Regions from separate parts of the Homo sapiens genome. Here all the other regions are linked to region 1. The links come from fine-mapping of genetic effects on gene expression. A gene starts in region 1. Each other region holds a variant in brackets. All regions are shown on one strand. Distances are from middle to middle.

The links. PIP is the estimated chance that this variant, and not a neighbour inherited with it, causes the effect.
Region 2: its variant is fine-mapped to the expression of TMLHE in sigmoid colon (GTEx, PIP 0.96).
Region 3: its variant is fine-mapped to the expression of TMLHE in iPS cells (PhLiPS, PIP 0.95).

The regions. Positions count from the first base shown.
Region 1 is chrX:155,609,562-155,617,748 of GRCh38, reverse strand. It overlaps TMLHE (trimethyllysine hydroxylase, epsilon), which reads left to right and starts at 4,797. Exons shown (of 8, transcript NM_018196.4): 1 at 4,797-4,957. It overlaps SPRY3 (sprouty RTK signaling antagonist 3), which reads right to left and starts at 5,163. Exons shown (of 3, transcript NM_001304990.2): 1 at 5,102-5,163.
Region 2 is chrX:155,556,676-155,564,862 of GRCh38, reverse strand. The region is part of intron 1 of TMLHE (trimethyllysine hydroxylase, epsilon); the gene reads left to right. Among named protein-coding and RNA genes, the nearest start is that of SPRY3, 52 kb to the left of the region's middle. The variant T/A (reference allele first, on the strand shown) is at 4,891.
Region 3 is chrX:154,932,812-154,940,998 of GRCh38, reverse strand. The region is part of intron 13 of F8 (coagulation factor VIII); the gene reads left to right. Among named protein-coding and RNA genes, the nearest start is that of MIR1184-1, 49 kb to the right of the region's middle. The variant T/GTT (reference allele first, on the strand shown) is at 5,018.

The DNA.
Region 1 (8,187 bases):
AGTTTTATAGTTAGTCTTGAAACCAAGAAGTTCTATAACTCCTCCTCTTTTTAAAGTTTTGCTGGAAACCCCAAGACATATGTTTACCCGTCCCAACATCTGCACAGATTGTCTTCTCTAATGCCTTGCTCCATAGATTTCAGATGCTTCTGCTACCCTGAGCTCTGATCTTTTCCTCCTTCGTTCAATGAGACTGCAAGCTCAGCTTGGAATCTAGCTCTTGATGCTGGGATCAGAAAATAGTCACCAGGCAAAGAGCTAAGGCAGTCTTGGGGCTTGATTTGTGAGTTTCTCTTTTCCTGGGGATCATAATCATGGGCTGACTATTGCTCAATATCTTTAAACAGTTTCCTTGCATATTTTATGCAGTTTTATGATGTTTCTAACGGCAAGAGTGCTGATCCAGTGTCATTCCCAACATAACTTTTTTTCCTGCTTAAATCAGTCAGCTTCAGCTTCTGTTGCATGCAACTAAGAACCTTGACTGATACAAGCCCCTATTTTATGCCATGTCCTATGATATGTGCTTGGCATTTATTATGTGATTTAATCTTAATTTAGAGAAATAATTCCATGTGGAAACTAGAGAAATGGGCAAGAAGCATTTCTAACAGTGAGGACAAGGTTGAGGAGAGGGAGGTTGCAGTGAGAGGAGCATTCTAGATGGAGGAAGAATGTATAAATGCACAAGGGAACCAGCATGCAAGAATTAAAGTATGAAATTTTTGTCATCTTCAAGGGAATTCTTCTGAGACCTTTATAAATTATCCTAATCCAATAAAACCACTATACATAGAATTTCCTCCATAAATACAGTAAAGTACAATTGTTTATATAGTAGGATATTACTGGACGGTTTTAACTTTCCCACCCCTATTAACATGGGTACTAATAAAATAACTAAGCATCCTAGTTTGCCCTGAACTGTTGTGGTTTTAGCACATTACAGGGAATTCCTCAGCCCCAGGAAAACTGAGAAAATTATCCTTTGGTATATGTGACATCGCTCACCTAGCTACAGTTGATTGGTCTTAGGTGGCCACCAGTCTCAAACTTGGCCAATAAATCCCTCATAGATTTATGGAGATAGGACCATAAAGGTCTATGGTAACCAGGGAGTGCCTCTCAGATCTTTCAAGGGAAAACCTACTATGAGGAGTGGAGTCAGCTAACAGTCTCCAGCTGGAGCACTTTTGGGATTATTTTTGCATCATTTGATCCAAGGCCATTCCCTTCCCAGGCATCTCCAGCCAATCTCTGAGCACAAGAGGTGTACTAGGGCTGTTTCTGTCTAACGCAGGATTCCTCTAATTAGCAGTCTCTGTTGGGGTGGTTGAGACTTCCATAGAGCTGTACTGTAATCTCCTCTTTATCTTGCCAGCCATTACCCACGATAGATCTGTAGATTTGCTTTTCAGAGGACCTGATATGGCTTAGTGTCTCTCTTCAGTGGTTGAATCTGTAATATGAAAATCTAGGAAGGTGTCCGTAACCGTATCTACTGTTACATGGACTTGGGAAACAAAAAGAGCTTGAGAGGAGTGGGGAGGAAAGCAAGGAAGGGAACGAGGGGATGAGAGAGAGAGAAGAGAGAGAGAAGAGAGAGAGAGAGAGAGAGGAGAGAGAGAGAGAGAGAGAGAGAGAGAGACCCCAGATAAATGTGCAGGGAAAAATAGGGGTAAAAGAATGATAGAGTCAATGTCACTGGAATCCTTGTTTTTGACGATTCTTGAGGCCTAACTATACCTTGCCTTTTTAAAAGTTTTGATTGTTCTAATCCTTCTTGAGTTCTGTGAAACACCTTATTATCTTCCCATAAATTTCTCTCTTTTGCTTGTTAGTTTCAGGTAGGTTTTGATAACTTTTAACTAATGAGTCCTAATTAATACTTCTTCACTGCAAAATTAATTGTATAGGTTACTACGTTTATGCTGAATCACATTTCTGTTGAGAGTCAGAAATGTTCATATCCCCAGAGTCAGAAATGTTCATAAACCGAAACACAAATTAATATACCCTTCAGCTTTACCAAATTTTTGTCCATGAATAGGTGAGGAAAATTTTGTATGGTCTAGATGATTTCTGAAAAGTTTTAGCATTTATTTGTTTCTCTATAGAATACCTAGCAGGATTCTTGTCATAGACCAAAGCTTCAGCCAAATTCAACATTGCACTGTGTCCAGAATATTTATTTTCTGGCTAAAAGTCACTACTTTTATAATAAATCTTCCTTCTTTAATTTTTTAACTCTTTCAAAGATCACTAGTAGTTCTTTTAAAGACCATCTTTGATAAATCGAAGTTCACAATCACAATTAACACATAGTTTTAACCACCTTTCAAGAACTCAAGGTTATGAATATGATTAGAGATCACTAAAGCTTCACTGAGAGGCTGATAAAACAAAGGTGTAGATGTTAGTCAAAGATGATGGCTCTCAGACATCATTTAATACAGTAGTCCATGCAAGAGATGGTGATAATTTGGCCTAGAGCAAGAGTCTAAAAATTATTGCCCACAGGGCAAATCCTGCCTCTTGCCTGTTTTTGTAAATAAACTTTTATTGGAACATACCTACACGCATTCATTTATGTATTGTCTGTGAATTCTTTCACTCTATGAAAGCAGAATTTAATACCTGGAGACAAAGACTGTATGTGACTCAAAAAGCCTAAAATATTTACCAGCTGACCCTTCACAGATAAAAAAAAAAAGCCAAACTCTGGTCCGGAATGTTAGCAGTACAGTGAGGGACAAATGCATGAGCAGATTATATTTTGGAAGCAGAACAAGAACAAGTTTGGTGTGTTCTAGGAACAGCTGGTGTGGCGGGAACATAAAAAGACCCAGATACTATTGTTTTTTTCTATTTTGTTTTCTAGCACATTTGTACCTATTGCTTTTATTCAGCTATTCATTCATTCCAAAAATATTAAGAAGTTCCACTCTGTGCCATACACCATGTGACCTGCTACACACACACACACAGAGAGAGGAAACAGTAAAATATCTGACTTTTATTTTATTACAAGTAAAATTTATATTTTATTAAAAGTAAAATATCCAGGCTCCCTAGAGTCTGGAGCCAAATTACCTAGGTTTGAATCTCAGCTCTGAAATTTATCTGCCATGTGATCCTGGTGAAAATTGCTTAACCTATCTGTGCCTCAGTTGCCTTATCCTTAAAGTAGAAATAATATCATCTACCTTAAGTGTTTGATATAAAACAAACACTTAGCCCAGTGTTTAGCATATAGTGCACATTTTATAAATGTTGGTTACTATTATTAAGGAAACTTGCTTCTTTTACTGACTCAAACAAACAGGTATTGTCTATCAACCTGTTGCCTTTTCTGAGTACTTTGTGTTGATTTCAGCTTAGCTTTAAGTGAGCTCATTCACTCTAATTGCTACAGTTATGATCTTCCTGTTACAGGACATTGGATCATGCTGTTCTTTCTGCCCAAAACTTTTTTTGTTTTCCCATTTGCCTGGCCAACTCCAATTTGTTCTTTAAACATAAGGGCATAAGGGCATGGACTATATCTGGGCTTTGTTTATCATTTTACACCCAGATCTTAGTACAGTGCCTGGCATACAGTAGGCACTCATTAATGTTTATTGCATGAATGAATACCAGCCAGACTAAATCTAGATTCTCATTGTACTTAGTTTTTCCTCTTTATGTTACATTCACACTCTGGATATGTCCTTTTGTTTACACACTGGTTCTAGAAATTTTTTAACAAATATTTATTAAATATATAGACATTTTAGACTCTGTGCTTGGAGAACAAATATGAAAAACACAAGTTTTCTGCTCTCAAGAAGCTACTTATTCATTAGAGGACAAAGACATGCAGAAAGAGAAATTATAATCTAGAGTAAGTGGTACTCTTGAGGCCTGTACGAGATCCATTGGGCATACTGGACCTAGGGAAAAAAAATATACAAACTTATCTGGGAAAGACAGGGAAGGCTTCACAGAGGAGGTGCTATCTAAATTGAGTCAAAAATAACGAGTAGCCGTTTTCCAAATAAACAAGTGCCGGGTAAGAGCATTCATGGCAGAAGGAATTCCAGGGCAAAGATGTGGAGGCTTTTTCTTCTTTTGTTGATCCTGACTTCTACAAACCAATTCCTTTATTGCTTTTTTGACATTAGATTAACACTTTTAATCTCGAATAAATATAATACTGCACAATTTCCCATTTTCAGTATATATGCATTTGATTTTTTTTGTTGTTCTTACTCTCATTTTTTAAATCTGCCTTGGATTTCCATTGCATATACTATTTCAGTATACTTTTTGGTCCTTCTTTGTAATATGTATCGTTCTTAAATTTTTACCTGCATAAGGTGTTCATTCCTAATGGGTATTCCCTTCTAGTGCTCACTGTATGTAGCACTGTATCTGGACCCTGGGTTCAAGATGCTCAGCTGAATCGATGGGAGTAATGAGCGGTATATGACTTCCATAAACTCAAGAAAATGGTGGAAAGGTAGTAGAATTTTACTTCTAGTAAACCTGGATAAACTACCATAAATAGAAGCGTAGTGGGAGGACTCGGGAGGAGCACTGAAATGGCAGGCAGGGGACCCAGGTTTTATAGCTTTATGGGCCTGTTTTTTCTCATCCCTGCACCTATAGCTTCAAGTATGTTCACTAAAGGCGATTGAATAGAGTGCCCCGGCCCAGTCCTTCCGAATGGGAGACTGACGCCCTAGCACCGGGCGAAGTCCCGGGCGCCAGAGGCACCCACCCTGCACGGCCGGAAGGAGTGGGGCGGGGCCTACAGGCTCTCCGCTGGGCCCGAGCGGGCTGGGGGAGGGGAGCGTGGGGCCGACAGTTTTGGGGGTGAAAAGGCAAAAGGCGGGTGAAAGGCTGCCTCCCGAGACTCTCCTTGCTTGGAATTCTGCCCACTCTGCGGAGTTAGCAGTCACGACCTCCAGCACAGGTGGGTTCCGTCCCGTGGGTCAGGGAAGGGGTGTCCCCATGGGTGCTACGGGTGGGTTTACCCAGGCGCTCGCTTTCAGGCCTGTCGCAGTGGGCGGCGGAGGCTCTCACCCGGGCTGCTGGGCCCAAGGGCGGTGGTACTCACCTTAACCCTGGCGGAGAGGAAGGCCACTCCTGCCTTGCCGCAGGGTTGTCGTCACGATCTGTGCCAGTTGCGCGACAGAGTCTGCCCGGAGATCAGCGTGAGGCCGGATGGGCCTAGCGCTCAGGAAGAGCTGGAAGAGCTGGAGCAAGCTCGCGTTGGGACTGACGCCCAGTGTACATTGTTTCAATCTCGGTCGGACTTTACAGCCCTGGATCTGTCACTGACTTGGTGTTTAGCTTTCAGCGAGTCCCTACCCTCTTCCTGCCTCACTTTGTTCGGCAGTAGAGTGGAAGGTGGAACTCAGCTGTCTGCAAGATCTTGCAGCACTTTCTTTCGTTCTCATATCCACTAATGTTCTCTGCCCAGATTTTACCCTTTGTCTGCCCCCTCTGGAGCAAGGCTCTGGGTAAGTAAGTTAGGCTAGGAAGTTTTCTTTCTCTTCCGAAAACAATGGAAAAGCCTTTAAATACTCCTGACTGCCCTGGAAACGACATTCAAACCATTAATTGAATGTCAACTCTGAAGAATGGGTTTGTGAATGCCATACTATTAAACGTTTTAACCAGATGATTGCCTAAAATGATGTGTGTTGAGTGGACATAGTACACTGCCTAGCAAAAGTCTCATGATAAATGAGTTGCGTGCTTTAACTCAGTCGCTGAAAGAAAAACTTGAGCTCTCATATTTAAGAAACACTTTCATAATCCACTCCCATACAGTAGTAGTCTTTTAGAGTTGCTTGTAGCTTGGTTTGCCCTTTCAGGACACACTGTAGTAAAAATTACATACAGTTTATTTTACATTAACTATAAAGACAAAGAAGGACTATAAACATTATGGATCAACATTTTGGTGTCAACTTCTGGTTTCTCCTCATTAAGGAACTGGTGGTAATGATAATGGTGAACATATATTTTGCAAAATACTATAATTTTCACAACAACCAGAAGACGTTAAGTAAGGTTATTTATAATAAGGCTTAAAAAACTTATACTTTATCTCATAACCAGTGTGATGAAGGGAATGTTTACTGGGGTGGTTGAGTCTGGGGGCTTGTTTAGTGTGCCCCACCTAGTTCTTTATTTCTTGGAAGCTTGGACTGGAACAGATCACTTCCTTGTTTTGGCCTCTGTTTCAGGAACCACCATTTGTTCTGTATTTCTGCTTGTCAACCCTGGGAACAACAGTAAAACCAGCCAAGTGGATCACTGGGTGTTTACAATGTTTCTGACAGCTGTATCTGATGCCTCCAGGGGCTGGGAGGGGGACCCCAGGATTAACAAACCTCTTTGGTGGGAAGAGTCTCTTCCTGCAAACTGAACACGGATCCATCAGTTGGGCACCACTGTGATCCCCTTTCTATAATACCAAGCATCCCCTGGGCTCATATGGGCTGTACATGCACCTGCCATTGCCCTGTGTAAAGATTTACAGGATAAGAGGCTCTTGAAAAAACCCAGCCTGCTCCATACCTGTAGGTTCTAGGGAAGGAGTGGCTGATATGTAGGTGAGTGTTCTTCTGGATGAGGAAAATACCTCATGATTTCCCAAATGGTTTGAAAGGTGAGAAAAAAATTATGCTGGATATCTGCTGAGCCAACCTGAAGGGTGAGTTTTGCATTGGCTATTTGGCAGGACCTGGTGTCTGCCTTGTTTAGCTATATTTTCACTCTATTCATCATACTCTGTTCATTCACTCCAAAGGCAATCAATGAATGTCAACTCTGTGCCAGGATGCTGATCCATTCACTGAGATTGGCAGCACAGGACAGCCAGTTCGGGAGGACAACAGGAATTCAACTTTAAGCATACTCAGTCTGAGGCCTCCTCACCTTTCCCCACTCCCTATATCTAACTGCTACAAAATCTTGTCACTTCTACATCCTGAATATTTTAAAAAATCCATCCACTTCTCTTTGTCCCATGACTACTCCAAATTTCAAGCCAGCAATATTCTTTTTTAATTGATTTAAAAATTTTTATTTTAAAAGACCAAATGGTTGCATGACCCTCGACTCTCATGGGAAAACCACAACCCACCACCACCACAGCAACAACAACAAACAGCCTAATGACCTCTGTATGATCCCTAATAAATTGTCAAAGTAAGGAGATGAAAGTTCTCTTTTTTTCTTGATGCTCACAGTGTTTAAATATTGTATTTAGGATAATTTACATGCCATAAAATTTGCATATTTAAAGTGATTTTATAAATTTATTGGGTGGTGCAACCATCACTACAATCTAATTTTAAAACATTTGCATCACGTCAGTGACATCTTCCTTGCCCATCTGCAGTCAGTCTTCATTACTACTCCCAGCATCAGACAACCACTAATCTACTTTCTGTGCCTATGGATTTGCCTATCCTGAAAATTTCATCTAAATAATGTCTCCAAAGTTTATTAATGTTGTGGCATATATAAATACTTCATTCCTTTTTATAGCTGAGTAATATTCCATTGCATCAGTATACTACATTTTGTCTATCTAGTCATCAGTTGATGAACACTTGGATTGTTTCTATCTTTTGGCTATTATGAATAAAGCTGCTATGAACGTTTGTGTGCAAGTTTTTGGGTGGACATTCGTTTTCAATTCTCTTGGTTAAACACCTATGAGTGGAATTACTTGGTCATATTATAACTGTATGTTTAATTTTCTGCCAAACTGTTTTCCCAAGGGGCTGTACTATTTTACAGTTACTAGATTTATATGAACCACCAGCAATGTATTTCTTCACATCATCACCATATTTGTTATTTCCCCGTTTTGTTTTGTTTTTTTCAAATGTGTAGCTATTCTTGAGGGTGTGGAGAAGTATCTCATTGTGATTTAGATTTGCATTTCCTTAATGGCTAATTGAGCATCTTTTTATTTGCTTGTTAGATATTTGTATATGTTCTTTGGAGAAATGTCTCCTCACATATTTTGCCCATTTCTGATTAGGTTGTTTGCTTCCTTACTATTGAGATGTAAGAGTTGCTTATATACAAGTCCTTTATCAGATATGTAGTTTGAAAATATTTTCTCCAAGTCTGTGGTTTGTCTTTTCATTTTCTTACTACTGTATGTTGAAGGGCAAA
Region 2 (8,187 bases), 53 kb after region 1:
GGCCTATGTTAGGATCTATACATAACTAGCCCATTGATGGTAAAGTATATGTTAGTGACTAGAGCAGAGGTTGACAACTGTCCACATTGGGGCTGAATATGGCTTGAAGATGTGTTTTTGGCTCATACTGTTGTGGCATTGTTGAATTTAGTCATTGTGATGCCCACCACAATGTGCCACTCATATCTCCTACTAAAGGGAGTATAGCTGACTGAGGGCCCAGCTGCTGTGTTCTATCATCCATCATTGTTTCTTTCTTCCAAGGCTACACTTCCCATCAACTGTTCCAAACTACTGAATGACCATGGCAAGAATACTAATGAGAGCCCATTCCTTGGAGACCCAGACTCCTTTAATGGCCACCTTTGGCTTGAGTATTCCCCAACAGCCTTCCTGAAACTTTCTTAGATCTGCATTGCAGTCTGAGACTGTGCTTCCTTCTTTCTGTCTTCCACAGGGATAGGACCTGTACCATGGTCTGATGACCCTCCAAGTCTAGACACTCTTCCCACTTCCCCTCACATATCTTTTCCCCAGTAAATTACTTGCACATCTATTTTTATCATGGCATCTGCTTTTTTAGAAGACCTGAACTAATACAGTTGTTGGCATTACAATTTGGGAGATTTCATATATAATCTGTATATCTGGCTCATTTCAAAAATTCTGAAGATTACAACACTAGGCCTATCTGTCCATAATCAGCTGGAACTAAGTAGTGGCTATGATTTTTGGACACTTCAGTTCACCCCTCTCTCTACAACACATTGTCTCTTATACTCGACTTATTTATGTTACTTGCCTAGCCCTTGTGAGCATTTAATTTTGAGTCCTTGAAAAAAAGGAACATTCTTTTAATTCATGCAATCCAACATATTATTTTGCTGATTGTGATGGAGAAAATGGCATAGACCCTGCTCTCATTGGAACATTTTCTTGTAATAAGGCAACCAGACATTAGCCAAACAATCACAGAAATAAAAACAAATAAACAAATAATTACAAGTTGTAATAAGTGCATTGAAGAATAAAAGGATCTATGAGAAACTAACAAATGTTAATCTTCTTTTCTCTGTCTATACCAATTCCTTTGGTAGTCTCATCCAGTCTCCTGACTTTAAATACCAACTATGGAACAACTGCCAAATTTGTATCTGCAGCTCATATCTCTCCCCTGAACTCAAGACTCATGTATCCAACTGCCTCTCTGATATTTCCACCTAAAAATCTAATAGACATCTCAAATTTAACAGATCCAAAACTAAAATTCTAATCTGTTTTTCCAAACATCCTCCAGCAGTCTTCCCCATCCTTTCAGTTTTTCAGTCCAAATACCTTGGGTTATCATTCATTCCTTGATATGGTTTGGCTCTGTTCCCCACTCCTGCTATCTCATCTCAAATTGTAATCCCCACATGTCAGAGGAGGGGCCTGATGGAAAGTGATTGAATCATGGGGGTGGACTTTCTCCTTGTTGTTCTCATGATTGTGAGTGAATTCTCAGGAGATCTGATGGCCTAAAAGTGTGGAACTTCCCCTTTTGCTCTGTCTGTCTCCTGCTACCATGTAAGGTGTGCATTGCTTCCCCTTTACCTTCTGCCATAATTTTAAGTTTCATGAGGCCTTGCAGCCATGCAGAACTGTGAGTCAATTAAACCTCTTTGTTTTACAAATCACCCAGTCTCAGGTAGTTCTTTATAGCAGTGTGAAAATGGACGAATACAGAAAATGGGTACCAGGAGAGTGGGACATTGCTATAAAGATAACTGAAAATGTGGAAGTGACTTTGGAACTGGATAGTGGGCACAGGTTGGAACAGTTTGGAGGGTTCAGAAACAAGAAGATGTGGGAAAGTTTGGAACTTCCTAGAGACTTGTTGAAGGGTTTTGACCAAAATGCTGATAGTGATTTGGACAGTGAAATCCAGGCTGAGATGATCTCAGATGGAACTGAGGAACTTAATGGGAACTGGAGTGAAGGCCACTCTTGCTATGCTTTAGCAAAGAGACTGGCAGCATTGTGCTCCTGCCCTAGAGATCTGTGGAACTTTGAACTTGAGGGAGATGATTTAGGGTATCTGGTGGAAGAAATTTCTAAGCAGCAAAGTGTTCAAGAAGTAACCTGGCTGTTCCTAACAGCATAGTGTTATATGCACCTGGGTGTTCCTAACAGCATACTGTCATGTGCATTCACAAAGAAATGGTCTGAAATTGGAACTTATATGTAAAAGGGAAGCAGAGCATAGAAGTTTGGCAAATTTGCAGCCTGAATATATGATAGAAAGGAAAAAACCAAAAAACCCATTTTCTGGGGAGAAATTCAAGCCTGCTGCAGAAATTTCCATAAGTAAAGAGAAGCCAAATGTTAATGGTCAAAACAATGAAGAAAATGTCTCCAGGGCATGTCAGAGACCTTTGCGGCAGCCCCTCCCATCACAGGCCCAGATGCCTAGGAGAAAAAAAAAAGGTTTCATGGGCCAGGCCCAGGGCCTCCCTGCTCTGTGCAGCCTTGGGAAATGGTGCCCTGCATCCCAGCCACTCCAGCTCCAACTGTGGCTTAAAGGGGCCATGGTACATTGCTTCAGAGGATGCAAGCCCCAAGCCCTGGTAATTGCCATGTGGTGTTGGGCCTGTGGGTGCACAGAAGGCAAGAATTGAGGTTTGGGAACCTCTGCCTAGATTTCAGAGCATGTATGGAAACACCTGGATGTCCAGGCAGAAGTCTGTTGCAGGGGCAGAACCATCATGGAGAACCTCTACTAGGGCAATGCAGAGGGGAAATATGGGGTTAGAGGCCCCACACAGAGTCCACACTGGGCACTGCCTAGTGGAGCCATGAGAAGAGGGCCACCATCCTCCAGACCCCAGAATGGTAGATCCACCAACAGCTTGCACTGTACACCTGGAAAAGCCACAGGCACTCAATGCCAGCTCGTGAATGCAGCCTCAGTGGCTGTACCCTGCTAAGCCACAGGGGCAGAACTGCTCAAGGCTGTGGGAGCACAACCCTTGCATCAGCATGCCCTGGATATGAGAAATGGAGTCAAAGGAGATTATTTTGGAGCTTTAAGATTTAATGGCTGCCCTGTTGGGTTTTGAACGTGTGTGGGGCCTGTGGCCCCTTTGTTTTGGCCAATTTCTCCCATTTGGAATGGGAGCATTTACCCAATGCTTGTACCCCCATTGTATCTTGGAAGTGACTAACTTGTTTTTGATTTTATGGGATCATAGCAGAAGGAACTTGCCTTGTGTCCGATAAGACTTTGGACTTGGACTTTTTAGTGCTGAAATGAGTTAAGACTTTGGGGGCTGTTGGGAAGGCATGATTGGGTTTGAAATGTGAAAAGGACATGAGATTTGTGAGGGGCCAGGGGTGGGATAATATGGTTTGGCTGTATGTCCCCACCCAAGTCTCATGTCTAATTGTAATCCCCAATGTTAGAGGAGGGGCCTGGTGGGAAGTGATTGAATCATGGCAGTGGATTTCCCCTTGCTGTTCTCATTATTGTGAGTGAGTTCTCATGAGATCTGATGGTTTAAAAGTGTGGCAATTCCCCCCACTCCTGCCATCATGTAAGACGTGCCTTGCTTTCCCTTCACCTTCTGCTGTGATTGTAAGATTCCTGAGGTCTCTCCAACCATGTAGAACTGTGAGTCAATTAAATGTCTTTTCTTTATAAATTACCCAGTTTCAGGTAGTCCTTTATAACAGTGTGAAAATGGACTAATACATTCCTCTTTATCTCACACCCCATTTTCAATTCATCAGCAAATCCTGTCGTTTTTGCCTTCAAAAAAACAGACTCTGACCCTTTTTCACCACTTTCACTGCTACTGCCTTAGTCTAAGTCACTATCATTTCTTGCCTGGATTACTTCAATAAATCCAGTACTGTAATAGCCTACTAACAGGTATCCCTCCTTTCCTTGGCCTGTTTACAGTTTATTCTCAATACAACAGCCAGAACAGTTCATTTAAAATGTGTCATCATGTTACCTATTAGTTTTAAAACCCTACAATGGTTCATCATTTCTATCAGAGTAAAAACTAAAGTTTTTATATATTAGCTTATAAGGCCCTACATGATCTGACCTGACCTATTTATTCCTACCTTTCTCACTTCATCTATTATTTTACTTCTTGCTTAGTGAGCTCCAGCTACAATGTTTTTTCTTTCTTTTTTTTTTCTTTTGGCCACAACAGATATAATCACAACTTAGAGCCTTTGCATTGGCTATCCCCTCTGCCTAGTCTACTTTACCCCAGATATCCTTATGACTAACTCCTCCTTTGATCAAATGTCATCTTTCTTAATGAGGCCTACCCTGACCACCATGTTTCAAAGTCCAACTTCCAGCACACTGCTTTATCCTGCTATTTTTTATAGCTTACTATATATAACTTATTATGTTTATACTTAATTATCTACCTTCTCCCACTAGAAGATAAACTTGAAAGCAAGACTTTTTGTCTTCTTTGTTCACTGGTATATCCCTAGTGCCTAAAACAATGTCTAGCACAAAGTAGACACCCGACAAATATTTGTTCAAATGATTAACTAATTAATTAGTTAATAAGAGTGTCAGCGAAGGTTTCTCAATGAATTGATATTTAATCTGAGACCTAAGGAACGAGCAGGAAGAATGAAGGGGAGAGCATGGTAAGCAGAGAAGGCAGTATATGTGATGGTCCTGACATGGGTGGGGCAAGATAGATTATGTAACGCCCTGAGTGCAATTGTAAAGAGATGGCTCAAACCTTTGCCTCTCCTCAAGGAGCTCATAGCAATTGAGGTAAGAAAAATAATTAAAGAAATGATTGTCATACATGTTTTAAGTGCACTAATAAGGTTATGCACAGAGACCTGTGAAAACACTGAGTAGGCAGTTGC[T/A]AACTCTTCCTAAGGGAGCTGGGAATATTTTACGAAGAAGGTGACATTTGAGCTAAGTCTTAGGCAGGAGAATGGCATGATGAAAGTGTTTTAAGAAGATTAATCTGGCAATAGTGTATGGACAATGGATTGGAATATGGATGGACTGAAGGCAAGGAAACCATCTAGTCTATGGCAATAGGCCAGGTATGAGGTGATGAAGGAATCTATAGGAATGGAAAGAGAAGGACAAATCTGAAAGACATTTGGAAGGAAAAATTGACAGGAGCTAAATGCACTCTTGGCTTTAAGCCTTTCAGGAGGTAATGCTTCTTCCTTAGTAATAACCATGAAAAGATTCAGATTGACCTATTATGTAATTGCCTACTCTGACTAGAATTTCTAGCTATGGCTGATCTCCAAAAGTTTCTGTTATTATGATTGATACTTTTTGGACCTTAATTTACATTACGATGGCTTTAGACTCTAAAGGTTGGGAAGCTCTCAAAAACATAATTTTGACAATGAAACAGCAAATTATTCTATTAAAGGAGAAAAGAGGAAAACCATGGGGCCACATAGGAAGTTTTACAATGAGTTCATACTTTCTTTTTTTTAAAAGATAATATATAAGAAATAGGAAAAAGGGCACAAACACAAGGATAAATATAACTGGTGACATGTGCCTAAAGGGTTAGTATTTGGAAGGATAAGGTCCAAAATTACCTCAGGCTTGTAGAAATGCATATTTGTAAAGACAACAAGAACAATATTTTAACTATACTCTCAGAAAGAAAAAGTACATGTGTCCTGGAATGGGTAAATTGTAACTCAGTTGATATTACTAAACTACTCTCAGTAATCGAAGGCATTAAGGAAAATAGGAAAGGTGCTTTAAGATTGGATTTATATAAATATATTACTGAGGCTAACAAAGAAAAAGGGGGAGTCTTCAATCTTCTAATCAGTGAGCTAAATGTCTCTTAAGTTAGCTTCTAAAACAAATTTTCAAATAAGCGAGTACTTAAAAAATTACAGTTATCAACAAAGCCATTCAACACAAACCTGGTTCTTATTTCTGACAAGGCTATTAGAGGTAGTTTATGGAAATATGGCAGACATAATTACATATCTTAAATGAATGAATGAAATTTCAGCAAGACTAATAAGTCATTTATGATAACCTTCTGGACAAGATAATATGGGTTATAAAAGTAATATAATTATGTATTAATTAATTAAATCACCATATTCAAAGAGTGCTGATTAACATATCATAGGCAAAGGATGAATTTTTTGATGATCTGCTGTATACCCTACCTTTGGATTGACCCAGTCAATATTATTTACTTAAGCAAAATATCTTAAGCAGACATTAAGATTAAGCAAACATTTTAGATTTAAAGGGGCTATGATGCTGGAAGAATAATAATTCAATTCAATTTTCACAAACATTTATGGAGTTCTGCTAAGTACTAGGAACCATGCTAGATGTTAGGGTATCAAAATGAATGAGACAGATAGGCCTTCCTATTGAGGAACATCCAGCATTATTAGGGGGAAAGACATATAAACATATCATTTCAACATAATGTATTAAGAAGAAACACATAAAGACTATTATGAGAGAACAAAAGAAAGCTACTGGTTTATTCTGGGAGTTTAGAGAAGACTTCTTAGATGAGATGATATCTAGACTGATTCTTAAAAGATGAATAAAAGGCAGAATAGGAAGGGAAGGGCTTCCAGTTTGAACAAAGAGCATGAACATGAGTTTCTTCAAATATGAAAGAACATGGTAAATCTGGGGTTAAGCAATAAAGTACAAGGAGGTAAGTAGCAGGAAGTTAGGCTGAGAGGTAGCTCAGAACCAGGTAGTAGAAGGCATTACATTAAGGACATTGGATTTTACATTGAAAAGCCTAGGGAGATATTCAAATGGAGTGACACACTGACATATTTTAGTTAACTCTTCCTACCATGTGCAAAAAGTTTGAAGGGAGGGCAAGAGTGGATAGGTCAATTAGAAGGCTGTTGCAGTCTTTAAGTGAGAAATAATGATGGGCCTGGACAGGCATGTTGGCAAGTAGAGATACACTACGGTGGGTGAAGTTTGAGAATCATTTAGGGGATAAAAGTTATCATGACTTGATAATTGACTGGGGGGAAAACTTTTTTTAATGAAGTATTGAGTTTGAAGCACTGATTTTTGAGTTACGCAACTGGTTGAATGAGACTAGAATTTACTGTGAGGAGGAACTCTGTGGGAGGAAACAGTTTAGGTGTAGGGGGGATCAGGATGTCATTAAAAGGTGCTTCATGAGGATAGGAATATTTTTGGTTGCTGATATATTTTCAGCACCTTTAACAGTGTCTGGCACCTAATATGTGTAAAGATCTGATATATGTGCAATAGGAGTCCTAGAAAAAAAGGAGAGAGAATGGTACAGAAACAATATTTGAAGACGTGATGATGAGGAATTTTTGAAAAGTAATACAGCATTGCATTATTTTTCTATAGCTGCATATCAAATTACCACAAACTTAGTGGTTTAAAACAACATCCATTTAGTAGCTAACAGTTCTATAGGTTGTTGCGGGAAGTGAGGGGCCCCAAACGGAGGGACCGGCTGAAGCCATGACAGAAGAACGTGGATTGTGAAGATTTTATAGACATTTATTAGTTCCCCAAATTAATACTTTTGTAATTTCTTATGCCTGTCTTTACTGCAATCTCTAAACATAAATTGTAAAGATTTCATGGACACTTATCACTTCCCCAATCAATACCCTTGTGATTTCCTAGGCCTGTCTTTGCTTTAATCTCTTAATCCTGTCAGCCGAGAAGGATGTATATCGTCTCAGGACCCTGTAATAATTGCGTTAACTACACAAATTGTACAGCATGTGTGTTTGAGCAATATGAAATGTGGGCACCCTGAAAAAAGAACAGGATAACAGCAGTTGTTCAGGGAATAAGAGAGATAACCTTAAACTCTGACTGCCGGTGAGCTGGGCAGAACAGAACCATATTTCTCTTCTTTCAAAAGCAAATGGGAGAAATATCGCTGAATTCTTTTTCTCAGCATGGAACATCCCTGAGAAAGAGAATGCGCACCTAGGGGTAGGTCTCTGAACTGGCCCCCCCGGGGCGTACCTGTCTCTTATGGTCGAGATTGCAGAGGTGAAATAAACTCCAGTCTCCCATAGCGCTCCCAGGCTTATTAGGAAGAGGAAATTCCTGCCTAATAAATTTTGGTCAGACCGGTTGATCTCAAAACCCTGTCCCCTGATAAGATGTTATCAACGACAGTGGTG
Region 3 (8,187 bases), 680 kb after region 1:
CTTAGGTCAGGCCTGGTGGTGACAAAATCTCTCAGCATTTGCTTGTCTGTAAAGGATTTTATTTCTCCTTCACTTATGAAGCTTAGTTTGGCTGGATATGAAATTCTGGGTTGAAAATTCTTTTCTTTAAGAATGTTGAATGTTGGCCCCCACTCTCTTCTGGCTTGTAGAGTTTCTGCCGAAAGATCAGCTGTTAGTCTGATGGGCTTCCCTTTGTGGGTAACCCGACCTTTCTGTCTGGCTGTCCTTAACATTTTTTCCTTCATTTCAACTTTGGTGAATCTGACAATTATATGTCTTGGAGTTGCTCTTCTCAAGGAGTATCTTTGTGGCATTCTCTGTATTTCCTGAATTTGAATGTTGGCCTGCCTTGCTAGATTTGGCAAGTTCTCTTGGATAATACCCTGCAGAGTGTTTTCCAACTTGGTTCCATTCTCCCCATCACTTTCAGGTACACCAATCAGTTGTAGATTTGGTCTTTTCACATAGTCCCGTATTTCTTGGAGGCTTCGTTTGTTTCTTTTTATTCTTTTTTCTCTAAACTTATCTTCACACTTCATTTTATTCATTTCATCTTCCATTGCTGATACCCTTTCTTCCAGTTGATCGCATTGGTTACTGAGGCTTGTGCATTCATCACATAGTTCTCGTGCCGTGGTTTTCAGCTCCATCAGGTCCTTTAACCACTTCTCTGCATTGGTTATTCTAGTTGTCCATTCGTCTAATTTTTTTTCAAAGTTTATAACTTCTTTGCCATTGGTTCGAACTTCTTCCTTTAGCTCGGAGTAGTTTGATCTTCTGAAGCCTTCCTCTCTCAACTCATCAAAGTCATTCTCCATCCAGCTTTGTTCCATTGCTGGTGAGGAGCTGCATTCCTTTGGAGGAGGGGAGGTGCTCTGATTCTTAGAGTTTTTGGTTTTTCTGCTCTGTTTTTTCCCCATCTTTGTGGTTTTATCTACCTTTGGTCTTTGATGATGGTGACGTACAGATGGGTTTTCGGTGTGGATGTCCTTTCTGTTTGTTAGTTTTCCTTCTAACAGTCAGGACCCTCAGCTGCAGGTCTGTTGGAGTTTGCTGGAGGTCCACTCCAGACCCTGTTTGCCTGGGTATCAGCAGCAGAGGCTGCAGAACAGCAGATATTGGTGAACTGCAAATGCTGCTGCCTGATCATTCCTCTGGAAGTTTTGTCTCAGAGGAGTAGCTGGCCATGTGAGGTGTCAGTCTGCCCCTACTGGGGGGTGCCTCCCAGTTAGGCTACTCAGGATTCAGGGACCCACTTGAGGAGGCAGTCTGCCCGTTCTCAGATCTCAAGCTGCGTGCTGGGAGAACCACTACTCTCTTCAAAGCTGTCAGACAGGGACATTTAAGTCTGCAGAGGTTATTGCTGTCTTTTGTTTGTCTGTGCCCTGCCCGCAGAGGTGGAGCCTACAGAGGCAGGCAGGCCTCCTTGAGCTGTGGGGGGCTCCACCCAGTTCGAGCTTCCCGGCCGCTTTGTTTACCTACTCAAGCCTGAGCAATGGCGGGCACCCATCCCCCAGCCTTGCTGCCACCTTGCAGTTTGATCTCAGACTGCTGTGCTAGCAATGAGCAAGGCTCCATGGGCGTAGGACCCTCTGAGCCAGGTGCAGGATATAATCTCCTGGTGTGCCGTTTGTTAAGCCCGTTGGAAGAGCGCAGTATTAGGGTGGGAGTGACCCGATTTTCCAGGTGCCATCTGTCACCCCTTTCTTTGACTAGGAAAGGGAATTCCCTGACCCCTTGTGCTTCCTGGGTGAGGCGATGCCTCGCCCTGCTTCGGCTCACGCACAGTGCACTGCACCCACTGTCCTGCACCCACTGTCCGGCACTCCCCAGTAAGATGAACCCGGTACCTCAGTTGGAAATGCAGAAATCACCCGTCTTCTGCATCACTTATGCTGGGAGCTGTAGACTGGAGCTGTTCCTATTCGGCCATCTTGGCTCCCAATGCAAAGACCTTCAAACAACGTGACTTCATTTTCTCACTCCTACCTTTTGTGCTCTTGTCATTTATTTGAATTCTACATATATTTTAAACCCCATAAGACATTATTATTGTTTTATATAATCAATATCATTTATATATATATATATATTTACACCTTTCATTTCTTTCATTCTTTTCTGCATTTCTTGCTTCCATCTATGATCATTTTCTTTTTGTCTGAAGAAACTTCTTTGGAACTTCCTTCAGTGTGTGTTGGCTAGTAAAAAGTTCTCTGTCAGTTTTTGGTCAGAATGGGTCTTTATTTTGCCTAGATACAAGTCCTTGGTTGGATTTACATATTGTGAATGTTTTCTCCCAGTCTGTGGTTTGTCTTTTCACTCCTTTAAGGGTGCATTATGGTTAATAGAAGTTCTTACATTTAATTAATTCTTATTTTTCAGTTTTTTATGGTTAATGCCTTTTGTATTCTGTTTCAGAAATTTTTGCCTATCCTAAGAACATGATGCCATCCTTCTATATTTTCTTTCTACATATTTTAAATATTTTCTTCTAGAAGTCTGATTGCTGTGTTGTTCACAATTAAGTTTATGATTCATTTTTAATTAATTTTGATGGAGTGATGCAGATAAAAGTTCATTTTTCCATATGGATATTTAATTGCTCTAGCACCAATTGTTGGAAAAAAATAATTTCCTCACTGAATTGCACTGTTGTCTTTGCCATGAATCTGATGACTGTATCACTGTAGCTTTGTTTCTGTACTCTATTTCAGGGGTAGGTTATGATCCACAAGCCAAATTTGCAGCTTGTTTTTATATGGCATTGAGCTAAGAATTTTTTTACATTTTTAAAGAATTGTCACACAAAACAAAAAAAAAGCAAAAAAACAAATAAGGATATGTATCATGGACCATATGTGTCTACAAACCTAAAATATTTACTATGTTGCTTTTTACAGAAAAAGTTTGCCAACCCCTGATCTCTTATATTCCATTGACTTATTGGTCTATCTTTGTACCAGTAACATACTATCTTATAGTAAGTTTTAATATTTGTTAGTATAATTCCTCCAACTTTGCTCTCTTTGATTTTTATATAAATTTTAGAATCATCTTGTCAATTTTATCAATAAAAATATCTTCTGAGGTTTTGATAGGGATTACATTGATTCTGCAGATCAATTTGGGGGAGCATACCTCTTGACAATATTGAGTATTCCTGTCCATGAGCATGGTTTAGTTATTTATTTACATCTTTTAAATTTTCTCTTGGCAATGTTTTTGTAAAATTTTAGTGTACAGGTCTTGCACATTTTTGTAAAGTGTATTCTTTGGTATTTAATGCTATTATAATATTTTTTATGGTATCAGTTTTTGTCAATTGTGTTTTTCTAGAAATATGTCCCTTTCATCTAAGTTGTTTAATTTACTTGAAGTAAGTTATTTGTAATGTTCTTTTATCATCCTTATAATGTCTGTACTGATGTCTCCGTTTTCATACCTGATATTGTTATTTATATTTTATCTATTTTAAGTTTATCGCCTGCACCCACTAACTCGTCATCTAGCATTAGGTATATCTCCCAATGATATCCCTCGCCCCTCCCCCTAGTGCACATGTACCCTAAAACTTAAAGTATAATAAAAAAAAAAAGTTTGTCGCCTTTGTTATAGGTTCATCAAATTTACTAATCCTACCATAGGATCAAATTTTTGCTTTGTTCATCAGGTCATGGAATTAAAAAAATTTTTTTGTTTTGTTTATTTTCTATGTTGAATTTTTATTTTTATTTTGCTTTGCATTTCATTTATTTCTGGTCTTTTGTTATTATTCCAATACTTTCTCTGGATTCAGTTTTCTTTTTCTTCTTGACTTCTTGAGATTAAAACTTGGTTCATTGATTTTCAACATTTCTTACTTTTTAAAAGTTCATACAAAGCATAAATTTCCCTTTATATACTGCTTTAACCCCATATCACAAATTTTGATGAGTCATATTTTTATTATCATTGAGTTTAAAATATTTTATAAATTTTACGTTATTTCTTGTTTTATTCATAGTTATTTTACAGTGTTTTACTTAATTTCCCAATATATGGCGATTTTCTGGCTCTCTCTCTGTTGCTGATTTATTTGTTTTACTGTGATCACATAACATACTCTATATTATTTCAATCATTTGAAATTTGTTGAGACTTGCTATATGCCCAGTGAATAATTTAATTTGATTAATGGCCCACTGCATTTGAAACAAATATGTCTTTGCTGTTATTGGGTAGAGTGTCATATATTTGCCTATTATGTCAAGTTGCTTTATCATGTTTTTAAAATCCTTATAAACTTCCTGATATTTTATCTGTTTCTTACAGACATGGAGGAAACTGTGACATCTCTGTGATTGTTGAGTTTGTTATTTTGATTTTTGTATTTGTTAGTAAGAATGTTTCAAAATAAATGAGGCAATATAAAATCAGGTGCTTACAACTTTAAGGTTGTATTCTTATTAAATCAATTCTTTCATCTTTGTGAAATGTCCTTTTTGTCTGAAGTAGTACTTGTTGCCTTAAACGTCTGCATTGTCTAAAATTTATACACCTGCACTATCATATTTATTTTGCTTAATGTTTGTGTGGTATATATTTCCCATTCTTTTCTTTTCAACCTATCTCTATCCTTATATTTACAGTGTGTCTTTTTTAACATTTTCTGTAGTGCAAGTCTGTTGGTTAATTAATTTTGTCAGTTTTTGCTTCTCTGAAAAGTCTTTATTTCTGTTTTTGAATTATATCTTCACTGTGTATAGAATTCTGGGTTTGTGGTTGTTGTTTTTGTTTTATTACATTTTGTTTTATTGGTTTTTCCCTCAGCACTTTAAAAATGCCGCTCCATTGTTTCTACTTGCATAGTTTTTCACAATAAGTTTGTTGTAATTCCCATTTGCATTCAACTGTACATAATGTATCTTTTTAAAAAAATCTGGATGGCTTCAAGCTCTTTACTTTGATTTTTGTGTGTGTGTGTGTGTGTGTGTGTGTGTGTGTGTGTGTGTGT[T/GTT]ACTTTGGCATTCTCTAGGCTTATTCAATCTGTAATTTGGTATCATTAATTTTGAAAAATATTTATCATCTGTGTCTTCAAATATTGCTTCTAATTCTTTCTCTTCTTCTGGTATTGCATTTACATATATTATACTGTTCAATTTTGTCACACAGCTCTTGAATATGCTGTTCTAGTTTGTTTTCTAACTATTTTTCCTTCTAGTTGTTCAGTTTTGTTGACATTTATTGACCTATTTTTACTTCAGTAATTGTTTCCTGGGTTGTTGAGTTAATTGATGAACTCATAGATGACATACAATTTATCTTTTTATTCTTGTGTCACTTGTGCTTTTGATGTCACATCTAGGAAGGCTTTGTCTAGCCCAAGGCCACATTTACTTCCATATTTTCTTCTAAGAGTTTGATAGTTGTAGCTGTTACATATATGTCTATGATCTAGTTTGAATAAATTTTTGTGTATGGTGTGAAGAAGAGGTCTAACCTCTTTTTTATTTTTTGCATGTAAACATCCAGTTGTCCCGGCACCATTTGTTGAAAATATGATTCTTTTCCCATTAAGTCATCTTGACACCCTTGTTGAAAATCAATTGACCATAAATGTGAGAGTTTATTTCTGAACTCTCCATTCTGTTCCATTGACCCATACGTCTTCTATAAATTCTTATAGCTAATTCTACATTAGACTTTGGTTTTTCAGATGTGGTCATCTCATTAGATTATGGTGATATGTTTGGTTACAAGTTTTATCTTCTCCTTGGCAACATTTTTTTTATTACTGCTCTTCTTTTATTCGTTTTTGTTGTTCCTTTCTCTTTTTGTGAGACAGGGTCTCACTCTGTTGCCCAGGGTGGAGTAAGTGGTGTGATCATGGCTCACTGCAGCCTCAACCTCCTGGGCTCAAGCAATCCTCCCACCTCAGCCTCCCAAGTAGTGGGACTACAGGCATGCACCATCATGCCAGGCTAACTTTTTTATTTTTTGTAGAGACAGGGTCTTGCTTTGTTGCCCAGGCTGGTCTTGAACTCCAAGCTCAAGCAATCCTCCAACCTCAGCTTCCCAAAGTGCTGGGATTACCAGTATGAGCCACTGCACCTGGCCTTGTTGTTCCTTTCTTCCTTTTATCTTGTAGTATCTTGATCCTTTTTGCTTATTATTTATCATTGAGGTGAGTTTGTTCTAAATAAACTTTTCGCAGAAAGTTTATGTAGATATATTAATATCAATGAGGCATTAGGAGTGAGTTTTAGATTAGCAGGAATTCTCTTATGAAAGGTATTGATTGTATGTGTGAGTTTTCAGCCTTTACTTCTCTCCAGCCCATCAAGATCAAAGCTGCAGAGTTGTTTACATTTCAGAATTTCTTTCCTCCCCTCCCCACCTTGCAAAACAGACTTACAGTGCAAAAATGACTTGTCAATGTGATTCTTTCTTCTGGTCCCATCTTTCCTACCTTTTGAGACTTGTGTTGAAAGGAGTCCAGTAAAACCACCGATGCTAGCTTGTATACCCTGATCCCATTGTTATAATGAATGACTGACTGTTTTTCATATCAAAGTATAATACTTGCACCTTGATAGAAGAAAGAAACAAGGCCAGGCACAGTGGTTCATGCCTGTAATCCCAGCACTTTGGGAGGCTGAAGTAGGAGGAATAATTAGACTTTGATATTAAAAATGGGGAAGATATGGCGGTATAAGATATGAGGAAGTATGTCTTCTTGGACTTTTCTGAAATCTGCCAGCCATGAGCATCCACTCTTTTTATCTTTTGATACCTGTTTTATATTAACTATACTTCTATTTTGTGGTTTCATGGCTTCAGATATCTTCCAGCTTAATTGTACTCTGTCTTTAATTATTTGCAGCAATTTCTGAAAGGAGCAAGAAGAAAGGCCAGCCCTTTCTTCACTACCTTAAAAACTGGTCATCTTTTGAAACCCCATGAAAGGCACAGTGGGTGACCATCTACATCAGGAGTGGGCAAACTATGGCCCTTGGGTAGTCTGGTCTCTGTCCGTTTTTGTAAGGTTTTATTGGAACCCATACACACACAAACTGATCATCTCTTGTTATGTGTTAAGTTTTCTTATAATTATTCTTTTCTATTTCATCCAGCTGAATTACCATTTCACCTTGTGTATGCCCTTTCCAGTCTTAAATTATAGAAGCTATGTCTTTGTGGTTTTAAATTATGGAAGCTGTGCCTTCTTGTGTTTTAGTATGGCAAGATATTTGTTCTTACTTTTCCTCTAGAATCTGCAGTGGATTACTTTCAGAAGTAGGTATTGCCTCTAAGTTTCCTGACTTCTGTTTCCTTCTCCCTGTTCTGTAGTATATTTATAGATTGCATGTTTTCTCGTCCTTAAACAAGGTACAAATATGTTCTGATCAAGGTTTGCTAGCCGAGAGGATAAGTGGCTTGCTCTTAGCCTAACTCTCTGTCTACTTAATGGATGTCGAATTCCCTTCTCAACTCAACAGCTAGTAACTAGTTCCAAGATCGGATAATAGCTTACAGAATTAATTAGTTCAGTGAAAGCCCTGGTTTGATCACAGAGGCAGGAGACTGATCTATATATTTGTAGTGCTGACTAGACCCCAACTTGGCCAGATAGCTTATACCTATGTCAGAAGTTGGAGGAGGAGATTGACAGCTGAGGTGTCTCCAAGGGAATTACAATTATTTTCATTTTCTTTGTGTCTGTAATTATGTCTCTTTTCTTACTTCAAATTTTGTATATGTGAAATTTCTTAATTTTTATTTGGTTATTTATTTTATTGACTTTTTCATCAAACAACCAACTCTAAGTTCTTGGATTGAAATTTATGAATTAATTATAATGTTTTAAATTTACCATTAGTCACACATACAATACAAAAAGATATTTTCATTACAAAATTTTAACCCAAGCCATTAAAACTAAACTCCAGCTTGGTCACCATTCCTAATACCAGGCCCCTCTCAGAGGGGAGGGTAAATAAAAGTCCATTTTGGTAACTAGTTTGACGAGAATCTCTAATTGTTTCCCTGTTTTTCTTATAATGTCTGCCTTTGAATTATCCTCTTTTTTTCAAGAGTTCCATCATATAATGTATTCCTTTTTGCTTACAGATTGACCTCCTAGAGGCATGCATCCCCCTGCTCCAGTCTGAGCTGGTTCTCTCTAGG